Homo sapiens: one gene and its partners. The protein of the gene in region 2 interacts with the protein of the main gene of each other region in a pairwise test. Each region holds a gene or a part of one and is shown on either strand. Other genes may lie near its edges.

Evidence for each region. The genes of interacting proteins can lie anywhere in the genome.
Region 1: the proteins of NEK6 (region 2) and BEND7 interact in binary tests that used the Homo sapiens proteins (3 or more experiments, as listed by UniProt).
Region 3: the proteins of NEK6 (region 2) and SPRY3 interact in binary tests that used the Homo sapiens proteins (3 or more experiments, as listed by UniProt).
Region 4: the proteins of NEK6 (region 2) and SH3RF2 interact in binary tests that used the Homo sapiens proteins (3 or more experiments, as listed by UniProt).

The regions. Positions count from the first base shown.
Region 1 is NC_000010.11:13,518,305-13,523,186, reverse strand, and holds part of BEND7 (BEN domain-containing protein 7), read left to right. Parts: intron 1-4,528; exon of another isoform or gene 4,529-4,634; intron 4,635-4,882.
Region 2 is NC_000009.12:124,312,951-124,317,832, reverse strand, and holds part of NEK6 (serine/threonine-protein kinase Nek6), read right to left. Parts: intron 3,911-4,882; coding exon 3,848-3,910; intron 1-3,847. UniProt on the Homo sapiens protein: Protein kinase which plays an important role in mitotic cell cycle progression. Required for chromosome segregation at metaphase-anaphase transition, robust mitotic spindle formation and cytokinesis.
Region 3 is NC_000023.11:155,772,414-155,777,295, forward strand, and holds part of SPRY3 (protein sprouty homolog 3), read left to right. Parts: intron 1-1,352; 5' UTR 1,353-1,458; coding exon 1,459-2,325; 3' UTR 2,326-4,882. UniProt on the Homo sapiens protein: Inhibits neurite branching, arbor length and neurite complexity. Inhibits EGF-mediated p42/44 ERK signaling. Negatively regulates the MAPK cascade, resulting in a reduction of extracellular matrix protein accumulation.
Region 4 is NC_000005.10:145,994,906-145,999,787, reverse strand, and holds part of SH3RF2 (E3 ubiquitin-protein ligase SH3RF2), read right to left. Parts: intron 3,451-4,882; exon of another isoform or gene 3,364-3,450; intron 2,572-3,363; exon of another isoform or gene 1,288-2,571; intron 1-1,287. UniProt on the Homo sapiens protein: Has E3 ubiquitin-protein ligase activity. Acts as an anti-apoptotic regulator of the JNK pathway by ubiquitinating and promoting the degradation of SH3RF1, a scaffold protein that is required for pro-apoptotic JNK activation.

The DNA of each region.
Region 1 (4,882 bases), on a different chromosome or scaffold from region 2:
ACAGTTCTCTTAAATCAGTTCAGCCAGTGTCTTTATAGAAGATACTCTGAACTCAGCACTTTTCTGGAATGGGAGTGGGGTCAGAGATAGTCACAGAAATGGATAGGACAGGGACCTTGTTCTCAGGGATTCAGATCCAGCTGGGGAGGAGACAGGACAAATTCAGGAAACGGAGCAGTATTCAGCAATCGTAAGAGCTACAGTTGTTTGAGCACTTAACTGTGTGCAAGGCAGCACACTGAGCACTTTACATGAAAGACCTGATTTGCTCTTTGCAGCATGTCTGTATGAGTTACCGTCATCCCCATTTTGTAGATGAGCCTAGAGATGTCGAGGTGACCTGCCCAAGGTCTCTCAAGTAGGAAGTGCCACAGGTAGGGTTCCAGTGCAGGTCTGTCTGAGCTTTGAACACTCCACTTAACCGCCTGTCTGTGAACGGTAATTAAATGACAAATGTGAATGATCAGGGCAACAGCAAATGCAGAGTTGGAAGGGGTAGAGGGGAGGGCTCTGCAAAGCAGAGATGTTGAACTACAGGAAAGATTCGCTCCTGTATTTCTCCTCCCTGGAGAAGATTCCAGGTGGGAAGGGTGAGGGAGCCGCCAATAAGCATCATTATAGCTCGACCATGAGTGTTGCACTTATGGTTTAGAAAGTGCTTTCACATCTGTCTTCTCGGGATTTTTACCATATACCTGTGGGGTAGTCAGGGCAGATATAATGATTCCTATAATGATGGGAACCGAAGCTCAGTTACCTGACCTCACGAATAGCAGAGGCCGGAGTAAACCCAGGCCTCCTCTCAAAAGATCTTTCCCCTCTGCCCTGTGGAGCCAGGCAAAGCCAAGGCTCATGGAGGAGGCCTTAGCTGCTAGCAGGGCACTTTTAGAAGGATTTTAATGAGACAATTAATTTATTATTCATAGCAGTAATGCAAATATAAAATGAAGTCTCTTTTCACACATTGGATTTTGGGTTAGATTTATCATAGTATGTACATTGGAAACATGTTTATCTGTCAGGTGTTCAGTCTCATTCATTTATTCATTCAACAAATTCATTGCGCTCCATTTACATCCATGCCAAGCCCTGTTCTAGTTATTCTTTTTAATATTCAGTTCAGTTATTCAGCTTCCCATAGATGAAGCACACAGTGTGGCAGCCATGCCAGCTGAGCAGGGTCGACATCTCTGAAACTCTGAAGTCTCTTTTCAGTGGCTTTCTTGATGACAGCTGCACCCACTAGAGTCCCCAGAATCTCCCCAAAGAGGACACACTCGAACAATTCCTCTGCACTTTTACAAGTTAGAGAGTTATCTCCCAGCCACGACATCGTTCTCCTCCCTGGAGGACTCGGCAGGTCCGTCTGTAAAATGGAGGAGGTCTTCACCTGGAGTCAGGTGGCCTGGGTCCCACCCTGGTTCTTGGTTGGTTTCAAAAGGCTTGGGAGCTGAGCCCCACTTCCAAGAGGAAGAAGGGTCTAGTGTGTCACCATACCTGGGGCAGGAGTTGCAACCTCAGAGGAAATGAAGGGCCAAGGGGGAAAAGTGGAACCCCAAAATCCCAGTATGTGGAAGCAAGTGCTTCCCCTCTGTTCCTCCCCACAAAAGCTCCACCTTCAGCACCCTGGCCCCACTGTGTCCTTGTGTCCCTGTGCTCCTTCTTGTAAGTCCTCTCCTTTTTTGGTGGTGGAATGAATGGGACAGATGACCAGGAGTGTCTCTTGGGGTTAGGTACGTGGCCAGTAATAGTGTTATTTACCCAGAGCTTGCTGTGTGCCAGCACTATGTAAAGGACTTTGTAAATGTTATCCCATTAATTGTCCCAAGAAACGTGTTGTTTTTCCCTCTTTATGGATGAAGAATTTGAGGAGTTCACAGAGTTACTCAGTGCCAGAGCCAGGATGCAAGCCAGGGTCTGCCTGTCTCCAAAGCAAGCCCTTAACCGCATGGCAGGCTTTGTTCAAACGTGCTCCCAAGCGGAACCCCCAGTATGTCCAGCAGATCAAAGGGGAGCAGAGCTGCTTGAAAAAAGGTCGAGGAGACCCAGAGAGCCTTACGTGCATTTCACATTCCTCTGTGGGCCTCTGCAGAATGTTAGGGCGCCCCCAGTCACTGTTTTAAAACTCCTGGTCTAGACAGTTCCCAAGGCTTCATACAGCACCTGATTTGTCCGATTATACTCTAGGACCGAAAAATGGCTTCAAAAATAATTGCAAGCAAAGTCAAAGTTTGGAGAGCCTCTTGAGGGAACTTAAATACCGATGGCTTCTTTCAATTTATGTGCACATAAACATATGTTTCGGTAGCTGTGGATGCAGAACTTGGTCGTTCTCACGTATGACTTGTTGCCTAAAGTCTGGGAGGCATTTGTAGTTAGGCCATCCGGGCACTCCATCTCTCATTTAGTTTCTATTGCAGCTACACTGTGAGGTTGCTGTTGGGTCGGCCTCATGTTTTACAAATGGGAACCTCAACTCAGGGATGAAAGTGATTTGCCCAAGGCTACATGGTCATTAGTAGCTGACCACACTTTCCAGTGGGGTCTCCTGACATCCACTTCTGAGTTCTTCACCTTGTCAGAGCTGCCACAGCTCCTTGCTCCAATCTGCCCACGTGGGCTGATCTCAGTACGTAACTTCTCACCCTCTCTCCTGCTTAGAGACTTCAGCTCCCTTGTCATGGGCCTAGAATCAAGGCAAAGCCCTTCACTGAGTGTCTAGTATGCACGGTCTGACCCGACCCATCTCCCTGTCCACAGCTTTCATGTAACCGCCTTCCCTTGAGCCAACCGGCTTCCTAAACCAGGACTTCCAGGTGCAGAGGAGGCACCACAGGGAGAAGGAATGGGGTGGGCAGGAGCTATGGCCTGGGAAAGCCCCTCCTGCTGGGAAGAAAGGAGCTAGGGCTTGTTTACTGCCTCCGGTGTGTGCTGGGCACTTCCGAACTTTATCTCATTTAACACTGAGACCAGCTCTGAGAAGGTATTGTCATTTCTACTTTTATATGAGAAAAATGGGCCTTTAGAATTGTTAATGTACGTAAGGTCATAGAACTAGGAGACAAGAGCCTGGATCTGGAATTTGGACATGGCCTGGCCACGATCTTTCCACTGTACCATGCTGCCTTGGAGGAGTGAGGCCCCGCTCTCCTCTCTCTTTCAGTTCGCTGTCTGTTTCTAAACCGCCCTTCCAGCCTTCTCTTGCTCTTCACCCTCACTGAAAACATGTGCTGTGTCAAACTGATCACATCATTCCCTCCTAAAGCACCTTCCCATTCTCATCTCTGCCATTTCACTGCGGCTCCTTCTCCATCCTAGCCTCCTACCATTCCTTACCCCATTTCCAAACTCCTTCTAGTAAAATCCTGTCTCTCCTATCGGTTTTTAAAGCTCAATTCAAATATTACCTTGGCCTGTAAGCCGCCTCAGTTTACATAGCGTAGCAGAGAGAAGTTGGATTTAGAGTCAGAAAACCTTGCTTTGAATCTCAGGCTCCAGTTCTAACACCTTGGATAACACTCTTGAGGGGTTTTCCTCATCTTCTGTAATAGAAGAATAACGTTGGCCCTCCTGACGCACATGCGAAATCCTGTATGGTAAAACGCTTTTTCAAACTGGAAAACACTGTATTTCTGTTTTTATTACCCCATTCTCTCTCCTTCTCCCAGATTTAGGAGTTATCTTTTCTTTTTTTTTTTCTTTCTTTTTTTTGAGACGGAGTCTCGCTCTGTTGCCCAGGCTGGAGTGCAGTGGCGCCATCTCGGCTCACTGCAAGCTCCACCTCCCGGGTTCACGCCATTCTCCTGCCTCAGCCTCCCGAGTAGCTGGGACTACAGGTGCCCGCCACCACACCCGGCTAATTTTTTTGTATTTTTTTTAGTAGAGACGGGGTTTCACCATGTTAGCCAGGATGGTCTCGATCTCCTGACCTCGTGATCCACCTGCCTCAGCCTCCCAAAGTGCTGGGATTACAGGCGTGAGCCACCGTGCCCAGCCTAGGAGTTATCTATTCTTCCGATCACTTGGGCACTAAGTAATAACATTACTCTTTTCTGGCACTTACCATGTGATGCCTAATATTTACTTATTTTTGTGTGTGGCTTTATTGTGCTCAAGTCACCCTGCAGATCCTCCTCCGAAACTTAACAGCTGCCACATTGAAATGTGGTTGTTTATTTTCAGGACTCTCCTAATCGCTCCTAATGTAAATTGTCAGATCCTAGAGGGCAAATGTGACCTGAGTTCATTTTGGATCCTTTGAGAACCTAGCACAATGCTGTATCCGTAATAGGTACTCTGCTGATAGGTCCTCAGATATGTGATTTAAATGCATGAATATATTGGACACTGTCGTTAGGACTCTGAAGATTTATTGTAAAGTATACTGCTATATTGAGATTTTAGAGACATTTAGTGAGCCAAACTAAAAGATGCCTCATTTAACTTTAAGCTTCTGTAACATACTAGAGTAGAAATTTGGGATTTCTGATGTTGATTTGTGAGATACAACTTCTTTTTTCAAATCCAGAAGACACCGAAAAGGAGAACTCACATATGAAAGCCAGTGACATGTTGGAAACCAAAATTGGAAAATCACATTTGTTCTGCTTGTTCCTTATTCTGCTCTAACACAGGTACAGCTTTAGAAAGGTGCTTAAGATAGCGCTGGCCCATCTGTAAACTGATGTTGACATTGTTGACTTCTCAGATTTCACATGAAGCAAGCTTTTCTACCTTAATTTAAGGACATAAAGCCATGTATTAAAGATCACACCAACAAACCTTAGTGCCTGTCGGGTTTCTGAGGGAGTTGGGCCCCTGCACACAGCCACCGAAGTTGTACCTGCCCAAGGGGGCCCTGTGAGGGGCCAGTGGGGCTGAC
Region 2 (4,882 bases):
CACGGATGCAGCAGGAGGCCATTATCCTAAGAGAAATAACACAGAAACATATCTATACTGCATGTTCTCACTTTTATAAGTGGGAGCTAAATCCTGGGTACACACAAACATAAAGATGGAAACAGTAGACACACTGGGCTCTACAAGAGGGGGCGGGAGTGGGGCAAGGGCTGAAAAACTTCCCATTGGGTATGATGTTCACTATCTGCGTGACGGGATCAGAAGCCCAAATCTCAGCATCACACAATATACTCTTGTAACAAACCTGCATGTGTACCCTCTGAATCTAAAATAAAAATGGAAATTTAAAAAAGAAGGTGGGCCAGACGTGGTGGCTCATGTCTGTAATGCCAGCACTTTGGGAGGCCGAGGCGGGTGGATCACCTGAGGTCAGGCGTTCAAGACCAGCCTGGCCAACATGGTGAAACCCCGTCTCTACAAAAACACAAAAATTAGCCGGGTGTGGTGGTGCACACCTGTTATTCCAGCTACTCGGAGGTTGTAGTGAGCCGAGATCGCACCACGGCACTCCAGCCTGGGTGACAGAGCGAGACCCTGTTATCAAAAAAGGAAAGAAAGAAAAGAAAATCCTCTTGCCCAGATTTTGTGTTGAAAAGGACGTCCTGCGCGAACACTGGCCATCACATCGCTGCCCTCAGCACACATCATGCTCCATAGACATGTTTTTCAGTTACCAAAAAAAGTGTCAAAGCAAGTGAATGGCAAGTTGAAAGTGCCTTCAAATCTCTGAGACATGACCTACGGCGTGGGCAAGCTGCTATGAGGATAAATGGGAACACCCTGCTCCTTCACCCTCCTCTTGAACTTCACCTCATTATGTCACCAGGAAATCTCACAACCTCTCAGGGAGGACTCCCCAAAAACTGCCCAGGTCATCAGCAGTCCAGGCATGACACAGTTTCTCCAACAAGGGAGAAATGAGAGGGGTTGGGTAGGAAGTAAAGCCCCATCAAGGAGGCGCTGGTTCCTGGGGAGGGGAGGAGGGAGACTCCTCCCCCATTTCCCTGCACGTCTGAGGGCAGGGGGTTAAGGAAGGGCTCCCTTAAATGCCCAGGCAGTCTACACAGGCACAGGCAGAAAGGGGCTCCAGACGTCCATTGGGCTAAATCGCCAAGGTCCAGAGAGGGGAAGGGATCAGCCACGGGTCCACAGCAAGCAGGGGCCGAGCTGAGTCTAGAACCTGGTCCACATGGAGTCCACTTCACAGCCTGTGGCCTCTTGGTGGGCCCAGGTGGGTCTGGAAGGGGACACACTTGGGTCAGGGACAGGGAAGGTGCTGCAAAGACGCAATGTGGTTGGGCTTTGTCTGGCTGTGGTGGTGGCCAGAGGGAAGGGAGGGAGAGCTGAGAGTAAGGGTCCCTGTCCTTTGAATCTCTGCCATCAGGGGCTCTGCTCCCAAGCTCCAGGCCCTCCCGGATGTAACACAGAGTGTCTATGATCTGTCTTCTCCACTGGGCTGCACCCTGGTGTCCAGCATTCAGTGGTGATCAGAAATTGCACAGAATGAATGAACACACGCCTGCGTTCCAACAGGACCCACCTTCTTGTCCCACGCTTGGCAGCTGCCGACCCCACCAGCCCCCGCACTTGAGAGGTTTTGGGTTTGGGTTCTTTGCATGAATGATGTGATATGTCAACAGTCACCCCTCCGAAAACCACGTTTCCTTTTGTTTTGTAGGAAGCACCTCGTGCCCTGGCACATCCTGTTGACTTCCCATGGGCTACCTGTGGAGTGGGACCCGTGTTCGGGAAGGCGGCTGGCATTGGCGGGCAGAGGTGGCAACCATGACAACTGGGCTGCCTTGGGCGGCGAGCGTACCACACACCAGCGCTGCCCTGAGCTCGTCAGACATGCTTCCTCACTGACTCCTCCAGCGTCCCTGTTGTCATCATGCCCCCTTTACAGATGAGGAAACTGAGGTCCTGAGAGGCCCATGGCTGGCCTGCAGCCACACAGCTAGTGAGCGAGGGGTGTGTCCTCTGAAACCCCGGCTTGGTGCCCTTGGCTGCATGGCAGCCCTGGAGAAGGGACCAAATCCCCTCTGCAGCCATGTGGGTTTACGCCAGGCTCAGGCTCCTGCAAGGCAGGGGCTGCGGTGGCACATCTGTGTGACCAGGGACCAGACCAGGCTGTGCTCAGCATGCTCACCTGTGGGTTCCTTCACTCGGGGAGAAGGGCACATGAGGTGGGGAGGGGGCAATGGGTGATCAGGACAAACATTCCTCAGGGCTGGGTAAGTGGCAGCAAGCTGACCATTACTTAAACATTTAAACAATGTTTTCGAGGGATATTTTTTGACCTATAATAGTTAGTGGTAAGGACACCTCCTGCCTCCAGCCTTGACTCCCTCACCCACTGTGGCCGGGGGCCACCAGAGCAGGCACTCACAACTCACACCCAGCCATGGCCCCCCGACTTGCAGCCACTTCAGGGGCTCCCCTTTTGTTCTGAGTGTGTATCTGGCTCTGCTGCCATGTCCAGCCTTCTGTCTCCCCAACCTCCCATAATCCACGGTGCTGCGGTGCCTGGAAGAAGGCTCACTTCGGCCTTCCAGATTCTGGGATGGTGCCCTGCCCTCTGTGAGGCCTGCCCAGGAAGCGGGTTTCCCTGGGGCTCCTGGCCCACCAGTCAATCTGCATCACCCTGGAAGGTCACCATCTGCTTCCTACCTGCTTCCCCACCAGCCTGGAAGTCCCCAAGAGCAGGGCCAAGGCCTGAGAACACAGGGCAGCGTGTGGCAGAAAAAACTGCTAATCTGAAATTCTGCAGCTGTGGCTTCGGCGGGCAGCCCTGCCACCAGCAGTCCCACTTTGCTGGAAACTGCCGAGCAAATCCAGTATGTTTCATGGGGGGCCGGGTGCGGTGGCTCCCGCCTGTAATCCCAGCACTTTGGGAGGCTGAGGTGGATGGATCACCTGAGGTCAGGAGGTTGAGACCAGGCTGGTCAACATGGTGAAACGCTGTCTCTACTAAAAATATGAAAATTAGCTGGGTGTGGTGGTGGGTGCCTGTAATCCCAGGAGACTGAGACAGGAGAACTGCTTGAACCGAGAAGGTGGGGATTGCAGTGAGCAGAGATTGTGCCACTGCACTCCAGCCTGGGCAACAAGAGCAAAACTCTGTCTCAAAAAAAAACAAAAGAAATAAAAAATAAAAATCAGGTGTGGTGGCATGCGCCTGTGGTCCCAGCTACTCGGGAGACTGAGGCGGGAGGATTGCTTGAGCCCAGGAGTTTGAGGCTGCAGTGAGCTATGATCATGCCACTGCACTACAGTCCAGGCAACAGAGTTTGCCTCTAAAATAAAAAAAAAACCCACCACCACCACCACCACCACCACTACCAACAAAACCAAAGAAAAAGGCTGAGAGGAGAGATGGAAAGAGGATGAGAAAGAGAAAAACAGGGAGACAGACATAGAGACAGAGGCAGAGCCAGACAGGCTGCAGTCTGGATGTGGTCCCCACAATGAACTCCTCCCCTAGCCAAGCCTGGTCCATAGGCCACTGCGAGGCAGGGTCAGGGCTGCCCTGTGGGGAAGGACTTCTATGCCGGGTACTGCCATGTACAAGCAGGAGGGGCGTGCAGCAAGGAGGAAAGGCTGTAGGCAGCGACCCCAAGGGCTGGGCAGAGCGATGAGGCGGGCCGCTCCTGCCTGGCCAGGAGAAAACTCACTAGCCGCTGCCCCTAGAAAGCTATCGTCTGTTAACTTAGCAGGGGCTGCGGATTCCTGGCACCCAAGGGCTGTGATGGACATGATGTGGCCCAGCCGCGGCCCCAGAACCTCCCCGAGGAGGCAAAGCTCCCGCTCGGCCCAGGGTGCTCACCTTCAAGAGGCCGATCTCCTTGACACAGTCCTGCCTCGCCTTGGCGTCCATCATCTCAAAGATCTTGGGCGGGAGGAAAAAGAGAAATAGAGTGGTTACAATCTGTGTCCAGTGACCCAAAGGAGGCCACGGGGTCTGCTTTCCAGTCCCGGCTCTCCCACCTCCTCACCAAGGGACTCTGTGACCCCCCCCTGCACTCCCAGCCCCTGTAGGGCTTGCTCACTGTGGGTCCCCCCAGCACTGTCCCACCACAAAACCCATCGTGGCACTAAAGAACCAAGACAGAGAGCCCAGGTGAGCCCCTCCCCAGAAGATGGAGAGGGCGGGCCAGGCACAGTGGCTCACACCTGTAATCCCAGCGAGGCTGAGGTGGGTGGATCACTTGAGGTCAGGAGTTCGAGACCAGCCTGGCCAACATGGTGAAACCCCGTCTCTACTAAAAATATAAAAATTAGCTGGGTGTGGTGGTGCACGCCTGTAGTCCCAGCTACTCAAGAGACCTAGGCAGGAGAATCGCTTGAACCCGGGAGGCAGAGGTTGCAGTGAGCTGATCACGCCACTGCACTACAGCCTGGGTGATAGACTGAGACTCTATCTCAAAAAAAAAACAAGATCAAGAGAGAAACTGGTCCTTTTTTGGACAGAGAGGACCCTGCTACTCCTCCAGCGCCCTGAAGCTGCGGGTGTTCTCTCCCCATTTCCCCAACGCCATTCTCTCTCCCGGCCCTCCTCTGCCCAGGCTCTCAATCTTGTTCTTTAAGGACAAGTAAGCAAATCAAGGGGCTTGGGAAGCTTTGCTGGAGGATTTAAAGCCATTTCCTCCGGCAAAGCTGTGTTCAGACGGGCCCAGCGGCTCTCATGGACATGGCTCCTGTCCTGACTTTGCCGCTTGACCTACTTCCTCCATTTAGGAGGGACGCAGAAGGCAGGAAGCCCAGAACTGTGGAGCAACCGCAGGCGCAAGGATGGGTGGACATGGTATGAACCTCAGCTCCCCCAAGACTCATGCTGGGGCCCTGGCGGTTATGAGATTTT
Region 3 (4,882 bases), on a different chromosome or scaffold from region 2:
ACTTGTTCATTTCTATTACTCATTCAAGCTATCCATCACATACAGTAGTGTGAGTAATTGATCTATTTTGAGAAGGCCTGAAATCTGATGGATCTCAAATATATACTTTATTCATGCTAGTGTTTTGCTACGTCCTAATGCCTCCAGGATGTTTCCTGGATTTGTGTTTAGGTTTCTTCATGTACACCTTTTTGACTCTTCAGTCTTCTAGGTGGTGCAATACAGCAGTCTGCTATTTGTACAGTATTTTCCCCATGGTCATCATTATCAGTTCTAGGCTTGGTAAAATCCTTCAGGGAATGACCAACCACCTCTTCCTGACTGTAGTACAATGGAAATGCAAGCATATGCTTTCTAGACATTCAACTTAGCTTAAATATGGTATAAGAATATCACTTTCCTTTAAGAAAGTCAGTTTATTGTGTAAGGTAGTGATAGAGAAAAGAAGTCCAAGCAGATTCTGCTTGGTAAGTCTCATCAATATGGAGGTGACTTAGGATAGTAATAGGTATAATTACAGATGATTTTTGAAATAATTCAGGACTTGTCTTCTATAGTTCCTTGATCCCCAGTATTACTCCCACGTGTACAAAAGTTTGATTCTGGAGCCTCCATTCCATTTAAAAAGAATCACTTCCTTAGTAAGTTAAAGCAGCCAGTAAGGTGAAGAGAACTGCAAGATGATTAGTCTTGGTTTCCTTATACTCTTGGGAAGCCTTTTTTTTTCCTACTACACTGCAGACAGCTTAATTCCTACCTTCTGTGTGTTTGCTGTATCTCTGCCTTTATTGCATTCTCCTTGCTTGCCTGTATTCACTGAATCAAGTAATGTCCTTTCTTATCTGTTTATTTCTGCTTATCACAAATTCACACTGAAAAGATAATTTTGATTGGATATATATATATATATATATATATATATATATATGAGCAACTTCTCATGGGAGACTTTTGAGGCTTTCTCTTTTCCTTCAGCATTGCTTCAGAAAATAGCCTTTGCAGTTAATATTAGGTTCCATTTGTATTAGAATTCTGATGCCCAAGGCTTGGATGTCTCTGCTAGCAAATACCTGAATGAGCTAGCTGCTCCTGTGAAACTAGGCATTTGATGGAATACAAAAAGAATCAACTATCTGATATTTGTTCCCAAACTTCTTTATAGTCTGGAGGGGATGATGAGATTTGCCTATAAAGAAGTAAGTGAGGTTAATTACAGAATAAAGGTGTAGCATGAAGATTACTGTAAAGTAATTGAAGGTAGTGGTGGTGATAGGGCCTGAGCTTTGTTGGTTTCTTGCAAAGTACTTATGCCTGTGTGTTCTCATTTACTGTTTTTATGCCTTCTCTCCTAGGATTTTCTCATGTGCCCTGAAATCCATGTAACTACAAGGGCTCCTCTTTATCACCATAAGTGCCACCCTGACTTAAAACCACTCAGAGCTAAAAAATCAAGGCAAAATGGATGCTGCGGTGACAGATGATTTTCAACAAATTCTGCCTATTGAACAGCTGCGCTCTACTCATGCTAGCAATGACTACGTGGAACGGCCTCCAGCCCCCTGTAAACAGGCCCTCTCCAGCCCTTCCCTTATTGTGCAAACCCACAAGTCTGATTGGTCTCTGGCTACCATGCCTACTTCTCTCCCCCGCAGTCTCAGCCAGTGCCATCAACTGCAGCCCTTGCCTCAGCATCTGAGCCAATCTAGCATTGCCAGCTCAATGTCCCATAGCACCACTGCCTCTGATCAAAGGCTCTTGGCCAGCATTACACCCTCACCTTCAGGCCAATCCATCATCCGAACCCAACCTGGAGCAGGGGTCCACCCAAAGGCTGATGGTGCTCTGAAGGGAGAAGCTGAGCAATCTGCAGGGCACCCTAGTGAGCACCTCTTCATCTGTGAGGAATGTGGGCGCTGCAAGTGCGTCCCCTGCACAGCAGCTCGCCCTCTCCCCTCCTGCTGGCTGTGCAACCAGCGCTGCCTTTGCTCTGCTGAGAGCCTCCTCGATTATGGCACTTGTCTCTGCTGTGTCAAGGGCCTCTTCTACCACTGCTCCACTGATGATGAAGACAACTGTGCTGATGAGCCCTGCTCTTGTGGGCCTAGTTCTTGCTTTGTCCGCTGGGCAGCCATGAGCCTCATCTCCCTCTTCCTACCCTGCCTGTGCTGCTACCTGCCTACCCGTGGATGCCTCCATCTGTGCCAACAGGGCTATGATAGCCTCCGGCGACCAGGCTGCCGCTGCAAGAGGCACACCAACACTGTGTGCAGAAAGATCTCTTCTGGTAGTGCACCCTTCCCCAAGGCCCAGGAAAAGTCTGTATGACCTTCCAACAAGGTGGATCCAGAGCTTTTCTCCTTCGAGTCCCCAACAGCAAAGCATAGGCCTCATCTTTGGAGAGGGGGAGGAGTGATAAACTAGCCAAAGTTAGGGCCTCTCTTTTGTTCCTGCAGTGTCAGGGGAATGACCAAGTACATCCTGGTGCAGGATGCCTTGTTCTTTCTCACAGTATCTATCCCACTCCTCTTCAGTCTTTACACCCTGCCAGCTCAGCCTTTATGGTTGTCATGGCAAATTCAGGTGATATATGGGTATGAGGTTTGAACACTGAGGACTGACAGGGCCAGCAACGTGGAGGTTTAGGGGCTCCCCAATGTAATACCTCTCGATGCAGGCTCTGATCGTCACTCTGTTTTCTGCTGTGCCTTTGGAAGCTTTCTTCTAAGATGGTTTTCACAGGTACATGTGGAACAGCGTTCAACCTTCCAGGGAATACGACCCCTTCTCCCTGTTACTGCCCTTCTCTTCTTTATTCCTCTCTCCTCTTTCATTATTCTGTTCTGTATTCCTTTCCCCTTCATTCTCACCCTGTCTGCTTTTACTTTTTCTCTTTCTTCCTCCCTTTCTCCTTCTCCCCTCCTTCTTTTTCAGACTGATCCTTTCTCTGCCTGTATTTCTATCTCATTTGATCTATATTTGTCTCTCTCTACCTGTCCCTTTTTCTCTAACATGTCCAAAAGTGCTGTTTTTCCATAGATGTTTCCTTAGATGCCAAACTTTGCTATGCTATACTATTTACTAATTTTTATTAAGGGAAATGGATTACTGTAATGAACTGATCACTAGCAATAGTGTGTATCCCGATGTGTGTGTGTGCTCACAACCACTCTCACCTGTTCGTGAGCGCATGAGGCGAAGTTATCTTATATTTCCAGGTTTAACTAGTTGGAGTTTTTCTCCCTTTCTCAATAATCAACTTATAGTGCTGACAGATTCCACTAGCATGCTGAGTAGGATAGTAAATCAGGATGCTCATAACTTTGTATGTCTGACCCAAGTGCCAAAGGCAGACGTGCTTTATAGCTAAATGAACAAAGCAAAGGATACAGAGGTATGTTCTCTCTTAGAAGCTAACTTCCCTGAGACTGCATGGCTCAGGCGTTAATAATGGACATAAAAAGTCATAAAACGTTAGAGCTGGAAGGAATCTTAACTATTAATCTAGTTCAATGCCCTTATTTTACAGATGGGAAAACTGAGGCCTGGAGGTAGGAAGGGACTTGCCCCCAAGGCCGCACACTGAGTTAACAGCAGAATTGAGACTGGAATATAGGCCTTCTGACTCCTAGTTCAGTATTCTTACCCCTGTACCACATTGAGTCATGGGACTTTTTCCTAGGGCTCTATTAACAGTGACAGAAAGCCATTCCCATTCAATTACTTTTCAGGAACCATGCCTAGTTAGTGTGGTGGTCTTTCTCCAGTGCATGGTGGGTAGCTAATTAACTATCAGGTGTTGAGGCTGCCCCCAGTGGACATCACCTTTGGCTCTGTCACCTTGTAGAAGCTCAAGTGTGGAAAAGAAAAGCTTAAAGAAGCCCTAACCAAGCTGTATCTTCGCCATTGCATCTACTCTTTGCTGCACACACTGTGCTTGCTCCTGGCTTTGTCTGCAATGGCAGCTGCCTGAGAACTTAAATTTCAGCAACAGTGAAAAACTGAGATGAAAGATGTATAATGTAGAGAACTGACTTCTCTCTTAAAAAGTACAGAGAGCCTGTGCTGTGAACCCCCTTCAATGGGAAAAAGCTGCAGTGGTGATGGCAGGCTCCTAAAGACTGCTGCTAAAAGACACAAGAATTATACAGTTTCCCTCTATAAGTGAATCCAAAATTCACTGACGAATTCAGAGATTGAGGGCACTTGCTTGAAATCAAGGTGCTCCAACTTAGTTTAAGACCTCCAGACTCTAACTTTATAGATCATCTCTTCTAGAGTGTGCATGGATGTGTGTTGCAGGGTGGAGAAGTGGGGAGAAGTGTATAGTAGTACACGGGGGGAAGAGGGGACCTCCATGTCCCTTTGTTGGATACATATTACAGAAATATGTGCCACTCACTTTTTGTTGGTTCTGAATCTTCCTGAAGTGTACTGACATTTGGGCTGCACAGAGCCCCACACCTTCACTTACACCTCCTCTTCTAGAATTGCTTTGCTCTATTTTTGTATATATAAATATGTTATGATGATTATTAATAATGTTAATGATATTGCTGCAAATGGTGCCATATATAAGGTTAGGCTTCTTGGAACATTTATAAACCCAAACCAATACCTGTAACCTCTTATGTTGCTTTCAGATCCTTCAATTTTAAGTAACTTTTTAATCTTACAAGTCTGCTTGATTGTACTTTACACTTATCTACCCTGAAAAGCTCTGCCCAGTTCTCTGGGTCAAGCTGGATGGTGATGAGTAGCAACACACACTTCTCTGCTTCTGCCTGAAATGTGCTTAGAGCTCAGTTATCTAAGGATTCTCTGACACTAGTGCATTGTTCCTGGAGCTAAATTATTCTATGGATGTTTGCTTATTAGTTTCAGG
Region 4 (4,882 bases), on a different chromosome or scaffold from region 2:
TATGGTGATCTGTAATCAGTGATCTTTGAGGTTACTATTGTAATGTCTCGGGGGGCGCCACAAACTTTGCCCATACAAGACAGCAAACTTCGTCGATAAATGTTTGTGTTCTGACTGCTCCACAAACTGGTCATTTTCCCATCTCTCTCCCTCTCCTTGGGCCTCCCTATTCTCTGAGACACAAAAATATTAAAATGAGGCCAATTAATGACCCTACAATTGCCTACAAATTTTCAAGTGAAAGGAAGAGTTTCACATCTCTCACTTTAAATCAAAAGCTAGAAATGATTAATCTTAATGAGGAAGGCATGACTAAAGCTGAGATAGGCCAAAAGCTAGGCCTCTTGTGACAAACAGTCAAGCTGTGAATGCAAAAGAAAAGTTCATGAAGGAAATCAGAAGTGCTACTGCAGTGAATACATAAATGATAAGTAAGTGAATCAGCCTTATTGCCGATATGGAGAAAGTTTGACTGGTTTGTGTAGAAGATCAAACCAGACACAACAGACCCTCAAGCCAAAGCCTAATCAAGATCAAGATCCTAACTTTCTTTAATTCTATGAAGGCTGAGAGAGATGAGGAAGCTGCAGAAAAAAAGTTTGAAGCTGGCAGAGATAGTCTGAGGTTTAAGAAGAGAAGCTGTCTCTATAACATAAAAATGCAAGGTGAAGCAACAAGCCATCAATATTGAGGCAAGACCCACCACCAGCAAGAAGATTACAACTTGCTGAAGGCTCAGATCATCATTAAGGTTTTTTTTTTAGTAATAAAGTATTTTAAATTAAGTTAGATATATTGTTTTTTAGGCATAATGCTATTGCACACTTAATAGACTACAGCATAGTGTAAACACAACTTTTTTGTTTTCTTTTCTTTCTGAGATGGAGTCTTGCTCTGTTGCCAGGCTGGAGTCCAGTGGTGTGATCTCAGCTCACTGCAACCTCCACCTCCCGGGTTCAAGTGATTCTCCTGCCTCAGCCTCCCGACTAGCTGGGATTACAGGCGCACACCACCACACCTGGCTAATTTTTGTATTTTTGGTGGAGACGGGGTTTCACTATGTTGGCCAGGATGGTCTCGATCTCCTGACCTCATGATCCACCCACCTTGGCCTCCCAAAGGGCATTACAGGCGTGAGCCACCATGCCCAGCCAAATACAACTTTTATATGCACTGGGAAATGAAAAAAAAGTGTTTGACTTGCTTTATTATGGTATTAGCTTTATTGTGGTGGTCCAAAACTGAACCTACACTATCTCTGGGGCATACCTGCATAATACTTTTTTTTCCCATAAAACATGGATATTTTATTCCAGCTCTAGGAAATGGAAAAAAAGAGGGAAACACATCTTTCTACACACCATTCTAATTTAACTGACATTAATTAGGGAAAGCTAGAGCAGAAATATATGATTATACATATAAATATGTATGTCTTTATACATACATATATGCATTTTCAGATTTTAGTCTCACTGGAGTTCATGTCTTTTTTTTTTTTTTTTTAACTATGGGCCCCTAAAGCTCATTAAATTCAAGCTAATACTTCTACCTAAGTCTCCTCATCAATCATTTAATATTGTTTGCATTGCATTCACAGTTTGTGTGTTAACCACTTATGCAATTTATCAAATTGCACATTTGGAGAGGTAAGGGAAAAACTTGGTTTAAATAATACTCTATGTATCAGTTACCCATTACATGATTTTTTTCATCATTATTTGCAACTTCATACATCTTGTAGTTTTCTATGTAGTCTCTCTATGCAGTCTGCTTCAGGTTCCAGTGCTATACTTGTCTATATGTTCTGGGTGGGACCACCTGTGATCCATGAACTTGGGGTCAGGCATAAACTGTGTAGCACCTGAGGTGGATTCTGATTTGGTGTTTGCTTCAGAGCTGAGTTCTGTTGGCAAGGGCACTGAGCATTTCAAGATGTGAGTTGTTTTTGCAGGTACTTCTATTTCGGCGGGGGATCCTAGCTTAATTTTTTTTCTTTAGGTTTAGGGAGTGACTCTTTTTTTGCTGCTTTTTGTCCACAATGATTTAACTGCTTCAAAAATTTGCTGGCTTGTAGCATATACCTTTTTCCCTGTTACCTTAGCAATTATTACTGACTGAACTGGGTAGCAAACAGTTGCTCATAAAGTGGCCAGTCCCAGAGGATAAGTAATTTTCTTAAACTTAAAACCTTTTCTCGCTGAAACCAAGCCCACCAATCCTGAAACCGTAATAACTCCCATTTTCGGAAGAAAATCTCGAGGAGGATTCTTCAGATAGACATAAGCATCTTTCCCAAATTGTACTGTATCCATTATCCCATTTTTCACAAAGACATAAACATCCTTGCACCAGCCAGTATAATGACCAGTTGCAGTGTAGATGGAAGCAAAGCCCATTTATAAATGACCAGGCTGCTCTTCAACATATTTAGACTGGAGCGGTGGTGCAGTATATACGGGGAGCTGCTCTGGTTTCACTAGCTGCTTTTTGGATTCCTCTTCTTTGGTTCCATGTACATTTACAGATGCATGTATCAGACTTGCAGGCATGGTTGTCAGTTTTCCCATCTACTAGCAGGGTGAAAATCTGAGACATTGACAATGGTAAATGCTGGGGAGAATGAGGAGCAACAGGAAGTCTCATTCATTGCTGGGTGATGAAATAACCTGCACAACAAATGCCCGTGATACGAGTTTACCTGTGTAACAAACCTTCACATGTACACCTGAACCCTGATGACCGCCATGTCTATGACCCTTTTGGCCAAGGTTTTCAGACGACACCTACATAACATTAATAACTAATTACCGAGCACTTCCTATGTGCTAAGTGTGTATGTGGATCATCTCATTTAATCTAGGCAGCCCTTGGAGATAGACACGCATCATCCCCATTTATAAGATAGGGTGACAGAGACACAGAGTGGTTTATTAACTTGCATAAGATGACACAACTGGGAAATGGCAGATATGGGACATGAACTCAGATTACCTGATGCTGGAACCCCTTTTCTTAATCACTACCCAAGGAACAGGGCTGTGAACTTGACTCTACGTCTATGAGATGGGAGTCAGTGACTCTTTCTGGGTCTGAATACTGATTTTGAATTCTGGCTCTACTTCTTTCCTTTTGTGTAATCATGGCTAAGTTACTTAATCTTTCTTAAACTGTATTCATTTATAAAATGAGCATTTGGATCATTAGGAAGCTCAGCTGAGACAAAGAAACAATTAGTCAGAGATCAATCGTCAGTTTTTTAAAAAAAATCAGCTCAAGCATAATCGTTTGTCAAATCAGTTGTCTAAATAATTATTTCAGTCAAATGCATTTTTACTAATTGAAATTGTTTTTTTCACATAGAAATGGCCTCACTCCAGTCTTGCTCGAAGTCTGCTGGGTAAACTGCAAGTTCTAACAGACTAAGAGGAAGTGCTTCAGTCACCTAAGGTCGTATTTTATTTTGTGCTTTTCCAAGCAGTGGGATTATGTAATCACCTCGCATTGTAGCAGTCTTGCTGTTCATAATCTTGCTATTCATGCAGTGGGGTATAGAGAGGCATTAATTTAGGTCTTCATGGATCTCCTGAATCCGCAATGATCATTTGAAAGAAGAATTCCGAGCAGCTTAGTGGTAGAGATAAGACCCAACATTACTTTGCTGATGGAATGGTGGAGGTGTCCTTTTCTGCTGGTCCCCAGATAAGTAAGGAGACCCCAGGGGTGAAAAAACCACAGGAACACAGCTCATCCCCAGGAAACTGGTGGACAAATGAGCAAAGATATATGTGCTAGGGGGTTTAACATAATGCTGTGGAATAAACAGGGAATTGGTTGAATAAATTATTATACACCCATACCCATACAATGAAAAACTTTGCAGTCATTAAAATTGATGTTTTTCTATAATTAATAATATTGAGCGTTACTGATAATATACCATTAAGTGTAACAGAAGAGGTTAAGAATAATTATGTAGACTAGATTTTCATTATAAATACATATGTATGTTTTTTATCTAGGGAAAATGTTAGATGACTATATGCCAATATTTTAGAAGTGGTTATCTCTAAGTGGTGAGATTTTTGAATATTGAAAAAACGCTTTTTTTCTAAGTGCTTAGCTGTGTTCTCTAACTTTTCTATAATAAAATAATTGTATTGCTTATTAAAATTGGACAGTTAGAAAATGAATGAAGTTGGTGGATGAGAGGTAAAAGGTATGAGAGGAATTTAGAAAGTAAGCCAAGCTGAGTAGGATAAGCAAACTATGCAACTAACTTTTTTGGGGAAGGTGTTCCCTACCTGAGAAATAAGCACGTAAAAGCTGGATGAGAATGGGTTTCTGGGGAATGACCCAAATCTGTTAGACCCCCGGGGTTGGGTACATCAGGGAACAATAATTGTTCCTCCATACTTCTTCCTCTCAATTTTCCATTGTAATATCACATTTTTCTGGGTACATGACTACCTGGAATATTGGTCACATTTTTAGCCTTTCTGGTGATTAAGTCCAGGCCAGTGTGGGAGTAAGCAACCTTTAGGAAGCATCCGTCCGGAGTTTTCTTTTCCTCTCCTCCATCTTGCTATGTGGAATGCAGACATGATCCCTAGAGCTCTAGCTGCCATCTTGAATACTGAGGACGAGGGCCACACCTAATAGGGAAGGGGCCTGGGTTTCAGAGCTTCCACACCCATCCTGGATTACTTCACATCCAGACTTTTGGTGGAGAGCTAAATAAACTTCCACCTTGCTGAATGAACTGTGAGGCTTTTTTTTTATTATTTATGAAAAACAGAAAAGAGAAAAGGAAAGAAAGGGAGAATGAGAAGATAAAGAAGAAAAGATCTAAGCCCCTTTAGATTTGCATAATGATAATATC